Linked DNA regions of Homo sapiens: region 2 is linked to region 1. The links come from fine-mapping of genetic effects on gene expression. A gene starts in region 1. The other region holds a variant in brackets. All regions are shown on one strand. Distances are from middle to middle. Region 1 holds the start of MS4A14 (membrane spanning 4-domains A14). Region 2 holds the start of MS4A1 (membrane spanning 4-domains A1).

Evidence for each region. PIP is the estimated chance that this variant, and not a neighbour inherited with it, causes the effect. A credible set is the group of variants that fine-mapping cannot tell apart.
Region 2: its variant is the best candidate, but not a certain one, in a credible set for the expression of MS4A14 in whole blood (TOPMed, PIP 0.66).

What each region holds. Positions count from the first base shown.
Region 1 is chr11:60,393,756-60,399,143 of GRCh38, reverse strand. It overlaps MS4A14 (membrane spanning 4-domains A14), which reads right to left and starts at 2,685. Exons shown (of 5, transcript NM_032597.5): 1 at 2,428-2,685; 2 at 1,164-1,292. The coding sequence starts at 2,565. MS4A7 (membrane spanning 4-domains A7) reads right to left here. Exons shown (of 7, transcript NM_021201.5): 7 at 3,196-5,357. The coding sequence ends at 5,283.
Region 2 is chr11:60,452,114-60,457,501 of GRCh38, reverse strand. MS4A1 (membrane spanning 4-domains A1) reads right to left here and starts at 1,655. Exons shown (of 8, transcript NM_152866.3): 1 at 1,557-1,655. The variant C/T (reference allele first, on the strand shown) is at 3,197.

The sequences.
Region 1 (5,388 bases):
CAAACTGTCTAAATCTAAGAACAATTCACCACTTCTCTCAGAGAGGAGCTGTTTTCCAGTATTCTCAGTCTCAGCACCTAGGATGCCATTGAAGACGCGGTATGTGCTCAGTAAATATCTTTTAAGTGAAAAGTAGAGTTTTCAAAAGCAGCATGCCAGAATCTCATTTTAATTCACACATGCAGAGTACACAAAGTCACACTGGGACAATTCTGTTGTGAAATGAGAAAGTGAGGGGTTGGTCTGTTTGATTTTCTACAGTATGGCATGTATAGTTTGAAAATCATATTGAATATTACATTATTTATATTGGGAAAATGAAAACACTGCTGGTTGTTTCTGAAATGCACATTATAGAAAAGGCATGGAGTATTTCTGTTTATCAAAAGAGACTGTGGATTTTTAATAGTCAGAGATAGTGGCCTAATTTATTAATTATTTCACCTATTTGTTGATTGATTGATTGATTGATTCATTCGTTCGTTCATGCACACTATGCCTCAAGCATGATTCTAGGTTCTCAGAATATAACAACTAAAACAGACAGTAACACTGCTGTCTTCTCAGGAGTGTATGTTATAGTAGGAGAAGCTCTAATGAGTCTGTCCTTAAATATTATGGCACAAAATTAGGAATCCAGGCTGTGGGGATTGGATAGAAATAGCACTGTATTAAGAATAATATTTATGGCTATATGATTATCTAGATGAGTGCCACTCATAAAGTTGTCTCTGGGGCTAAGAAGGAGGATGAGTGATAATAATTTTAAAATTCTTTTTAAGCTTTCAGAGTCTGTGATTCCATGAGTGCTAGCTAGGCTAGATATGTTTAAGTTATTCTCTACTTTTGAGCTCAGTTTCCTTATTTGCAAAGGAATAAGTAGGATATTTGTGCATCTAGTCTCCCAGGTTGGTATTGAGGAGCAAATGTCTTACTATACACACAAGGGCTTTGGAAACAAATTTTAAGCACCTGAGAGTAGTTATTACAATGATGATGGTAGTGCAGTGACCAAATGGAGTTGCTTCTTTTGCCGTGAAGGGAGCTGCCTTTTTTGGTCTCCTGGAGGGCCATATTTATGGAATTCATTACCCTAGGACGTGAAGCAGTTCAAATCTATCTTTATAGCAATTTCTCCAAAGCTTCTAATCGACAGTACTCACAATAAGTGCTCCCCAGAATGGATATCCTGTGAGGACAACAAGGGGAAGTCTTTGGGAGAAACCGATGTAATTAAGTGCAAATATAGTTCCAAAGCCCACAATGATTAGAGCAAGCAGGATCTGGGTAGCCTGTGAGGAGAGAAATGGGTACATGAGGTTACAAGTATCCAAGACCCTGTGGGCTACCCCACGTCCCTCAGGGTGTGCCTCCATGGCACACCTTTCCCTCCATCCAAATGCCTTCCTCTCTCATTTGTCAATCATTCTCAGATTGTTAAGAGACTCAGTTCAATGTGTTTCCTTCCCACTTTGCTTGCCTGGATCCTTCAGGTTCAAATCCTTCACTTTTATTCTTTATTATTTTCTATCTTCCCTGGTGTTACCAATTAATCTTATATCAGACAGATTTGAGTACATGTCTGACTACCCCCAGATTATAAGCTTCTTGAGCACAGGGACTATAAACTATTCACCTTTACATTTGTTTTTTCGTCTGTCTCACCAGTATCCTATTATTATCCTAACAGCCCCCACCCCCACATTTTCCAGCACTCAGTATAGGCTTTTGGAATTGGGGCTCATCCCAGTTGTCTAAAAATTTAAAAAGTTTGATGACATAGAGTGGAGAACCTGGGATGAGCTTGCATTTCACCTCCCCTTCATCCATGGACCCAACTAGGGATGAGAATAGCCCAGTGGGCCTATCAGCTTGTAGGAATCTGCAGGGAAAAGAATAGCAGCAGTGGTTCTCAGGGCGCAACTTCTCTGGCAGTCTAGATTTTGTCCCCAGGCCACATCTCTGGGCTGTGGCACACCAAGTAATGATTTTTGCTGTTGTACAAAGGATGGAGGCTGTGCATACAGCTCTCCCCTGGGTGCATTTGTGATGAAAAACGTTTTGCATGCCTTATCATTTGGTTCACTGTGGAGCTTTGAATATGGGTTTTGAAGCACTCCCAATTCCTTTAAGAGCATGAAGGGGAAGTCAAACCTCTCCACTTATGGTTTCTTAGCTTCAAGGGAGGTGCCACCACACCCTGAAGTCACTTCCTCAATGAGATATTTTAAAAAGTTATACTAGTTTCTTGCTTCCCCCTCTGCTGGGATTCAAAGATCAGTACTAATTTCTCATGTAAGGTGAAGGGGGAAAAGTAGAATTAACTCCCTCCCTGAAAATAATCTCTGCATATCTCTGCAGACATACATGAATAAATAAACTTCTTTTCTCCCCTTCTGGAAGACCTATTGACTGGAGAGGACTTACCCCCAAGACTCTTGGCTCTCCCTTCAGAAAATCCAGCAGAGAGCTATGAGGTCTGTAGGGAAATGCAGTCAATACAGTTTCGTTTGGTTTTATAGTGATGACGTGAGTTGCCCTTCTGTCCTGGGATGTTGACTCCATGATTCTATGGCAGAACTCTAGTAAGGGAAAGAGTGAGCAAACATTGCCGCCCAAATCATGATCTACCTCTCCACCAGAGTCACATGGAGCCCTCAGAGATGAGCCCTTAGTGATGACTCTACTCAGTAGTAGAATCTCAGAATCATAGTTGAGTCACAGAGTTTTAGAATTCTAGAGCATGCTCAGCCCCCCATCTTCCTGGTGAAAAGTACTGTATCCAGAAGACTTACTCTCTTGTCAATTTGCTTACAAACATATGGTAAACAAAGAATAGATGGTATATACGAAACAAGTCCTTACACATATGTTCATGAGTTATAAAGGAACTAAAACTTATGGAATATTCCTTATGTTCTGGGAACTGTGTAGAAGGTGTTGACATGCACTAACATTTATTCTTTTAACAGTTCTACAATACTGAAACTGAGGAACAGCAAGGTTATGTCACCCAAAGACATACAGGACAGGGAAGGGGCAAACTCAACTTGACCTGTCTCCAAAATCTATGTTTTTTAAACTCAGCCACGCTTCTGCCCTCCTTTGAAAGGAGTTTCTTTTACTTGATGAATTTTCTAACTTACTGTTTAACCATATTTCTCTGTATTATAAAAATCAGTAGATAACTTTGAATTTCGATTTTTTTCCATCTTTATTGAGGTATATTTGACAAATAAAAATTATATATATTTAGGGTGTACTACATGTTTTGATATACATATACATTCCAAAATGATTACCACAATCCAGCTAATTAACATATCCATCACCTCACGTAGTTATCTTTTTTCTTTTTTTGTAGTGAGAACATTTAAGAACATTTAACAATTCTTTGCATTTTCAAATTAAACAAAAAAAAATCAGTAGTAAAGATGCTATAGGACCAGATGGAGTTGCCCCTTTATAACAGAGAATATTTTAGCTTTCATAAAGTTAAGCAAAATCTAATGATAGTCAAATCCTTCCTGGTTTGAACTACACAAATACTAATTAAAACAACAGAAACTGCCTTTAGAAATTTTGCTTCCCATATTGATCCTTTATATTCCTAAATTTATTACAATTTTAACTATGAGATCATGAAGGTAAATTGTTTCATAAAACTAAAACCAATGTATACACATAATAACTTGAGTATTTCCTGGTTTGTAGCGACCATCGATAGCAGGGTATCTCAAAATGAGCACTGATGACATTTGGACTCAATAATTCTTTGTTGTAGAAAGTTATAAGATATATATATTTTAAACTATGCTACTCCTCATTTATTTAGGAAACCTCATATGCATAGAGAGTGCAAAGTTAAACTGCAGCCACACTGGAATTTCCATAATTGCCCAAGAAATCGAGTTTAATGCAGAGGCTCACACAGAACATATTACACAAAGAACAGACAAGATAATTGCAGCAATGACTGGGAAGAAAGAATACGCCCATGTGGTACAAAGTGCAGGGGTGATGATCTGAATTACAAAACTGTGCTATAGATCAAAATAGAGCTAATACCCAAACAAAGAAATAGACATTATTCTTTTCAGCATGAGCAGCATTTAGCTCCAAGCTAGAAGCAGAAAACATGCCAGTCAGAGATTATCTGTAACTTGTTAAGACTAAGATGTCTTCATTGACTCCTACCCTGAAATGACAGAAGAGAACATAGTTTATGTGCCAACGACTGAATATTCTTTTTTATTTTATTTTATTCATTTATTTAAAATAAATGAATTCAAAGACTATATATAGTCTATTTTTATTTTTATTTATTTTTTTATTTATTTTGAGATGGAGTTTTGTTCTTGTAGGCCGGGCTGGAATGCAGTGGTGCAGTCTCCGCTCACTGCAACCTCCCCTTCCCGGGTTCAAGTGATTCTTCTGCCTCAGCCTCCCAAGTAGCTGGAACTACAGGTGCGCACCACCATGCCTGGCTAATTTTTTGTATTTTTAGTAGAGACAGGGTTTCACCTTGTTGGCCAGGCTGGTCTCAAACTCCTGACCTCGGGTGATCCGTCCACCTCGGCCTACCAAAGTGCTGGGATTACAGGAGTGAGCCACCGCGCCCAGCCAAGAAGGCCATTTTTAAACAATAGAATGAGCACCACTGGTTGGTGCCACAGGATTGCAGAGATTTGGATTTACATGGTAAGATTCATGGGAGGCAGGGACATGCTTGCTGTGTGTTGAGAGGTAATCCTAAGCACTTGAGAAGATCTCTTTGCTGTCTTCCACCTAATGGCTCATGAAAAAGGGCCCAGTAGATCTGTTTCTCAGAGAGTGTCCAGGGCAGAGTAGTTTAATTATATATAGTCTTTAATTTTTAATTAAAGTTTTCTTACAATCCCTAATATGTAATATTTAAGCAATATGAGTGTGAAAATAATACAGAAACAGCCTGCAGAGTCACGCAACTTACCAAATTCACACTAGCATGAGTGCACATTTTCCCTTCTGTGTATCACCTTCTGCTCAGTTTACCCAAAGCAGTTTATAAAGTTTATGACCATTTTGGAAGACTGGCTGATAACATTTATTGACTTGGGCTTTGAGGAAATTATTTTCAAGAGAAATTAAATAACGACTCATAGTAAACAAATACAAAACAAAAGCTTTTTTTTTTTTAGTTTGTTTCACAGTATCTAAAATGGCAGAGATTTCAGGAAAGTCTAATCACACTTGACCATGAGTGTTGAGTTGCTTTTCCTTCCTCTGAGGCCAAGAGTTACTTATATCCAAGACCGTGAAGAACTCTTTTTGACCTGTTGGATATGATCTTGTGACTGGGTCGAGGAAAATGAACTCTAGAAAATACATAATTGGTTAGAATTTTTA
Region 2 (5,388 bases), 58 kb before region 1:
TTTCTCATTTCCATTCATGCTTTTCTGCCTTCAGTCTTTCTCTTTTCTAATCCATTGTCCACAAGGCTGCTACATCAAGCTCCCGATCACTGTTTTGAGTGATGCTCTTCCTGAGCCTGAACTCCTTTGCTGGCCTGTCATTACCTGCTGGAGAAACCCTTCATCTAACCCCTCAAGGCCTTTGGAATTCAGCCCTGTATGACTTCCCAAGCTCATATCCCACTACCGCCACCAGAGCCACTGGTCTATACATGTCCTCTACCTTCTTTCCTGAATCTTCTCAACTTTGAAGTGTTCCTTCTCCCTCCCTCTTTACTTTCAATCAAACTCTGCATTAGATATGCACATCACCTGAGGGCGTTCCTGCTCTCCTTGCCTGATTGCAAGGAATTCTTCAGAGCTCCTAGCTCTTTGCTTTCCTTACTAGACATCAACTACTTTCTTCGGAGAATCCTGTATCCTACTAGACTTGCATAGGGAACCTGTTTTCTATGTACTATGAGCTCAGTTACATTAAGCTGAACATCAAACTCAGCTACTTCCTCAGGGAAGCTTAACAAGTGCTCACAATGGCCAGGTGCAGTGGCTCACACCTGTAATCCCAGCACTTTGGGAAGCCGAGGCAGGTGGATCCCCTGAGGTCGGGAGCTCGAGACCAGCCTGGCCAACATGGAGAAACCTTGTCTCCACTAAAAAATGAACAAACAAACAAAACACACACACAAAAATGCTCACAATGCTGGATTAAACATTTCTTTCCACCGGATTCTCAGTGAGATTAAGCCATTTTATGGGAAACAGGGAAAGGGAATCACTTATATACTGGATTCAGAAAACAGTAATGGCATGATTAAAATTAATCCTTGTTTTCCTTCATTAGAGCTCCCCCACATCTGCAGCGCCCCCTCTTACTCTTGGTTTCCCATGTGATAGATTTGAGGCAGGATTTCATGCTCAACTTGGTGTCCACAAATCCCCTCCAGAAAATGTTAGCCTGTAAAGCCACCTATACTTCTAGGTATATTTACATTTAATGTAGACAAAAGCATTTACAGGAAGACAAATGGAGTTTTTTTCATTATGCCTATGACTGATTATTTTCTCATTTGGTATTGGGAAGTCCTAAGGGATTCAGGATTTTAGTTCCAATTTTCCTAATGTAATGGGTACCATTGCCCCCATTTTATAGATGAGGAAGCTGAGGCTTTAGAGGTTTAGTAATTTGCCCAAGGTTATATTGTTTGTTAGTGGTAGAGCTCCAGTTTGAACCCAATGGTTTAGAAACCATGATTTAATATATATGCTGCAATCTACTACTTTTGTGGAATGATTCACAGTTGACTGCATAGGGTAATTGTTGAGAGGGAGACTGATTAGAGGAGTGAGTGGGCAGCAAGCCTTGATATCGTCACCCCTCCTTAAGTCATAGAACTATTAGGAAGTCTGACTAGGGAAACTCTAGAATTAAGATCAAGAACCTCCAGTCTTCAAAACCATTCTATACCTTATCCATCACCTCCTTTAAGTCATTTAAAGAAAGCAAATTGATTCCTTACCTGAGTCTCCAAGGCCTCAAATCTCAAGGGCTGATTTGGATGCTAGCTGCGGAGTTCAGTGGGTGCAGTTTGTTTCTCAAGCACACTGGGAGGGTGAGTGGTGTAGTCCAGGCCTGAAGATGAAATCGCTGATAGACATCAGGTGACAGGAAATCAGTAGCTTCTGCTACCTTGGGCTTCGCTCCAATTACTTTGGTTTAACACTTACCATAGCTGAAGGAGGTGCAAAAAAAGTTTCTGCCTTACCAGGTTTCACTTCTTGAAAAAGACCCCAGGGGACTGCCTGGCATGCTCATGCTACCTTAATTAGAAGAACTTCTGCAGCCCCCACCCTATAAGCAGGTGTGGATGGTAGGTCCCTGAGGACAAGAAAGATTCTAGAAGTTGGTCAAAGATGGGCCGTTAGCACTGACTTTTACCTTCTGGCTTCACTTTTAGGGCTGAGTAGGTGGGCAGGAGGCATCCATGCAGAGATTCAAGAATCACTGAGGCTGTACACTTGGCAGCACTATACTTAGGGGTCCCCAAATATTGTCCTCATTGGCTCACACTTAAGTTTCTTATGAACCATGTATATATCTTGTGTCAGATTTAGCAGAAATGGCCTAAAATTATACTTTAGTGCCATAGTACATGTACCCAGCCACTCAAAGCAAGAATTAGCCTCCATATTTGGAAATATAAATTGAAATAGCACTTTTACCTCTGAACCCACCTTTTTCTTCTGTCTGTCAAGTTCCCTTGTGTCCCCTCTCTTTTTAGTCTAGTCTGGAGCTGCAGGGTCATCAAGCACAGTACTAGATCAAGTAGGGAAATGGAAGAAGTTGGTAGTGTCAGGAGAGTCTAAATATTTGGGATGTGAATCAAAGTTTTGCCCAAAGATAATGTCCTCTCTCTCCCCCTACAATATTCAACTTTTATGTTCATATGTGGGATTTTTAATTACATTTTTATTTCCCTGTTCATTGCTTCATTTTATTAGAGACACAGAGCTATAGTTAGGTAATTATTTGTTTATTTAATCTAAAGGGATGAAATATGGCAGGCAGCTCTGTTGCCTAATTCGAGGTTCATTCCTGTCTCTCTCTTTCATCTCTTCTCTCTTTCTCTTTCTGCCTCTCTTTTTAAATTTAAGATAGTTTGGAACCATAGGGTTAGATCCACTGGGTAGAAGTAGTTCTGGGGAGGCTGATTGTGGTGTGATATTTAAAAAGATGCCACTCTAAAAAAAAAAATTGTTGGAGCCGTTCATTAGGGGAACTGGCTACCATTTCAATAGAGAATTTACTTCTTCAAGAATACTCAAGTAAAGTCATGCAGTCACCTCTCAGAGATGCTGTAGAGTGAAGGAGAGTGGGAACAGAAGATCCATCATCCATTTAACATTCTAATTGAGGGTCTATGCATATCTGCTGAAATGCTTGAGTGATTGGTGATGGGAGGACAATTACCTAGGGTCTGAGTTGTGGATGATTGTGAAACCTGAGGTTTGAGTCCTGGATGGTGGGGTGGTTAGAGGCATGTGCCTTCATTTTAGTTGGCATGGGAACAGGGTCAGGACTTGGCAAATGTATGGCAGCAAAGGGGCTTGAGTTGTGGCAGCACAACCTGGTCTTTTGCATCCTTTTCTCTGTTTGAGC[C/T]CTGTATTTCCCCAGTCAGTCTCAGGTTGTTTGCTACTTTGTGGCCAATGAGATAACTTAGGTGGCTCTATGTATGATTCTTCCCAAATAAACTTGAATTTGAATTTGTATGAATGCATAAACATTTACCTTGTCTTTGCTCATTTGAATGATCAACATTTTAGTGCTTGAGTGTGTTGAAATTCTCACTACAATTTGGACTTGTCAATAGCATCTTATTTGATGTATCACCATCACTCTTCCCCCAAGGTTTGAGAATATTTTATTAGGTTGATAACATATTTAAAATATTTCTCTTTGAATTAAGCCTATTTTCATTATCTAGTGACCTTGCTTCCAAAAGACAATCTTAAAGTCTACATAAAAGTATGCCAACTTTTATTTAGTTAGTATTTTCCTGATGTGAATTTCCTTTTTATTCTCTGCACGTCCCAGCACTCCAATTTTTTTAATCATTGCCTTCTATATGAAAACTGTGTGCTACATCATAATTATTTGTGTCCTTGCCTTAATCAGCCATTGTCTCCTTGTCCCTTGAAGGCAGGGTCAGTTTTTGTGATTGCTGTGTCCCTGGCAGTGCTGAGAAGGAATGGTTCTGTTTGGCTTTTTCTTTCACCCAGGTGATTGTCCCCAGGCTCTCCAATATTAGGAAGTAACATTATGCCACGTTCTCAACTTCTCAGCAAGGCCCTGGCACCCAGAATTATCTGCTGTTGGAGGGTTCTGGTGTCAAAGAATTGGTAAGGGAGACATAGGGCTCGTCAGAGGTGAGGCTAAAGATCTAATTGCAAATAGAACTTGGTTACAGGTCAGAAAATCCCATTGTTGCACTTATAAATAATTCATAGTAAGGAAAATGTAAATTGAAATACTTAAGAACTTTATAGTTGATAGGGTCTTCTTTCTCTTCTAAGGGACTATACATTTGGAACAGCTAGGAAGGTAATATTAGTTAAATAATTCCTTTTATGTCAAGAATTGTCCACATATAAGCCTTACCACACATATAATATTGATTCTGTTTTATAATTGTGGAAACTAAATTTCAGGAAATGGAGGAAGCCATTCCCAAGTTGGAAAGCTGGTAAATGGTAAAATAAGTGATGTTTAGAGCAAGAAAATCTCAATTATAAATTTCAAAAACTAGCATTTACTAAGTGATTTTTAAGTTCCAGGCACTGATAAACTCACTTTCCATGTTTCATTTAAGGTTCACAGTAAACCCATTAGGTAGGTATTACTATTATTGCATTCTAGTCTAAAAATTTTAAGCCCGCAAAGATTAATTTGTTCAAGTGACACAGCTTTAAATGGCAAAACATTTATTATTATTCGTTTTAAGATATAAAAATGTCTGATGTACTCCCATGTGCAGATTACTGGATCACTCCCTTTGCTTTTGTGACGTGGGAATATAGCTGAAGAAAAAAATGCAATTATGACCTCATAGTTATTGAAAAGAGTTTTTTCTCTTATGTACCAATAAATATGCTATCATTGGAGATGAAGTGTTACTGATATGTAACGGTAACATTTTTCTGCAGGTGTTGACTATAAAAATATCATTATGTGATAAAAAATTTAATGAAAATAAGATGTTGTTTTGCTTTCTCAATTATATTTCTCAAAAAATTAAATAATATGTATGAAAAAGTACTTATAACAGTGAGACAAGAAACCATGTGCCCACAGCCATGATTAGAGATACAAGAGTGTCACTGATACCTTTGAAAGCTCTCAGGTTATCCTTCCCCAAGCCACCCTCTTTATCAGAGCTCACAATTATGCTGAATTTGGTGTTTATCACTCTCTTCCTTTTCATTGTATTTTGACTTTCCACATATGCTTACATTTCACACGGACATATTGCTTAGTTTTTGTGTTTTCTTTTTTTTTTTAATTTATTTATTTTTTATTGATAATTCTTGGGTGTTTCTCACAGAGGGGGATTTGGCAGGGTCATAGGACAATAGTGGAGGGAAGGTCAGCAGATAAACAAGTGAACAAAGGTCTCTGGTTTTCCTAGGCAGAGGACCCCGCGGCCTTCCGCAGTGTTTGTGTCCCTGGGTACTTGAGATTAGGGAGTGGTGATGACTCTTAACGAGCATGCTGCCTTCAAGCATCTGTTTAACAAAGCACACCTTGCACCGCCCTTAATCCATTGAACCCTGAGTGGACAGAGCACATGTTTC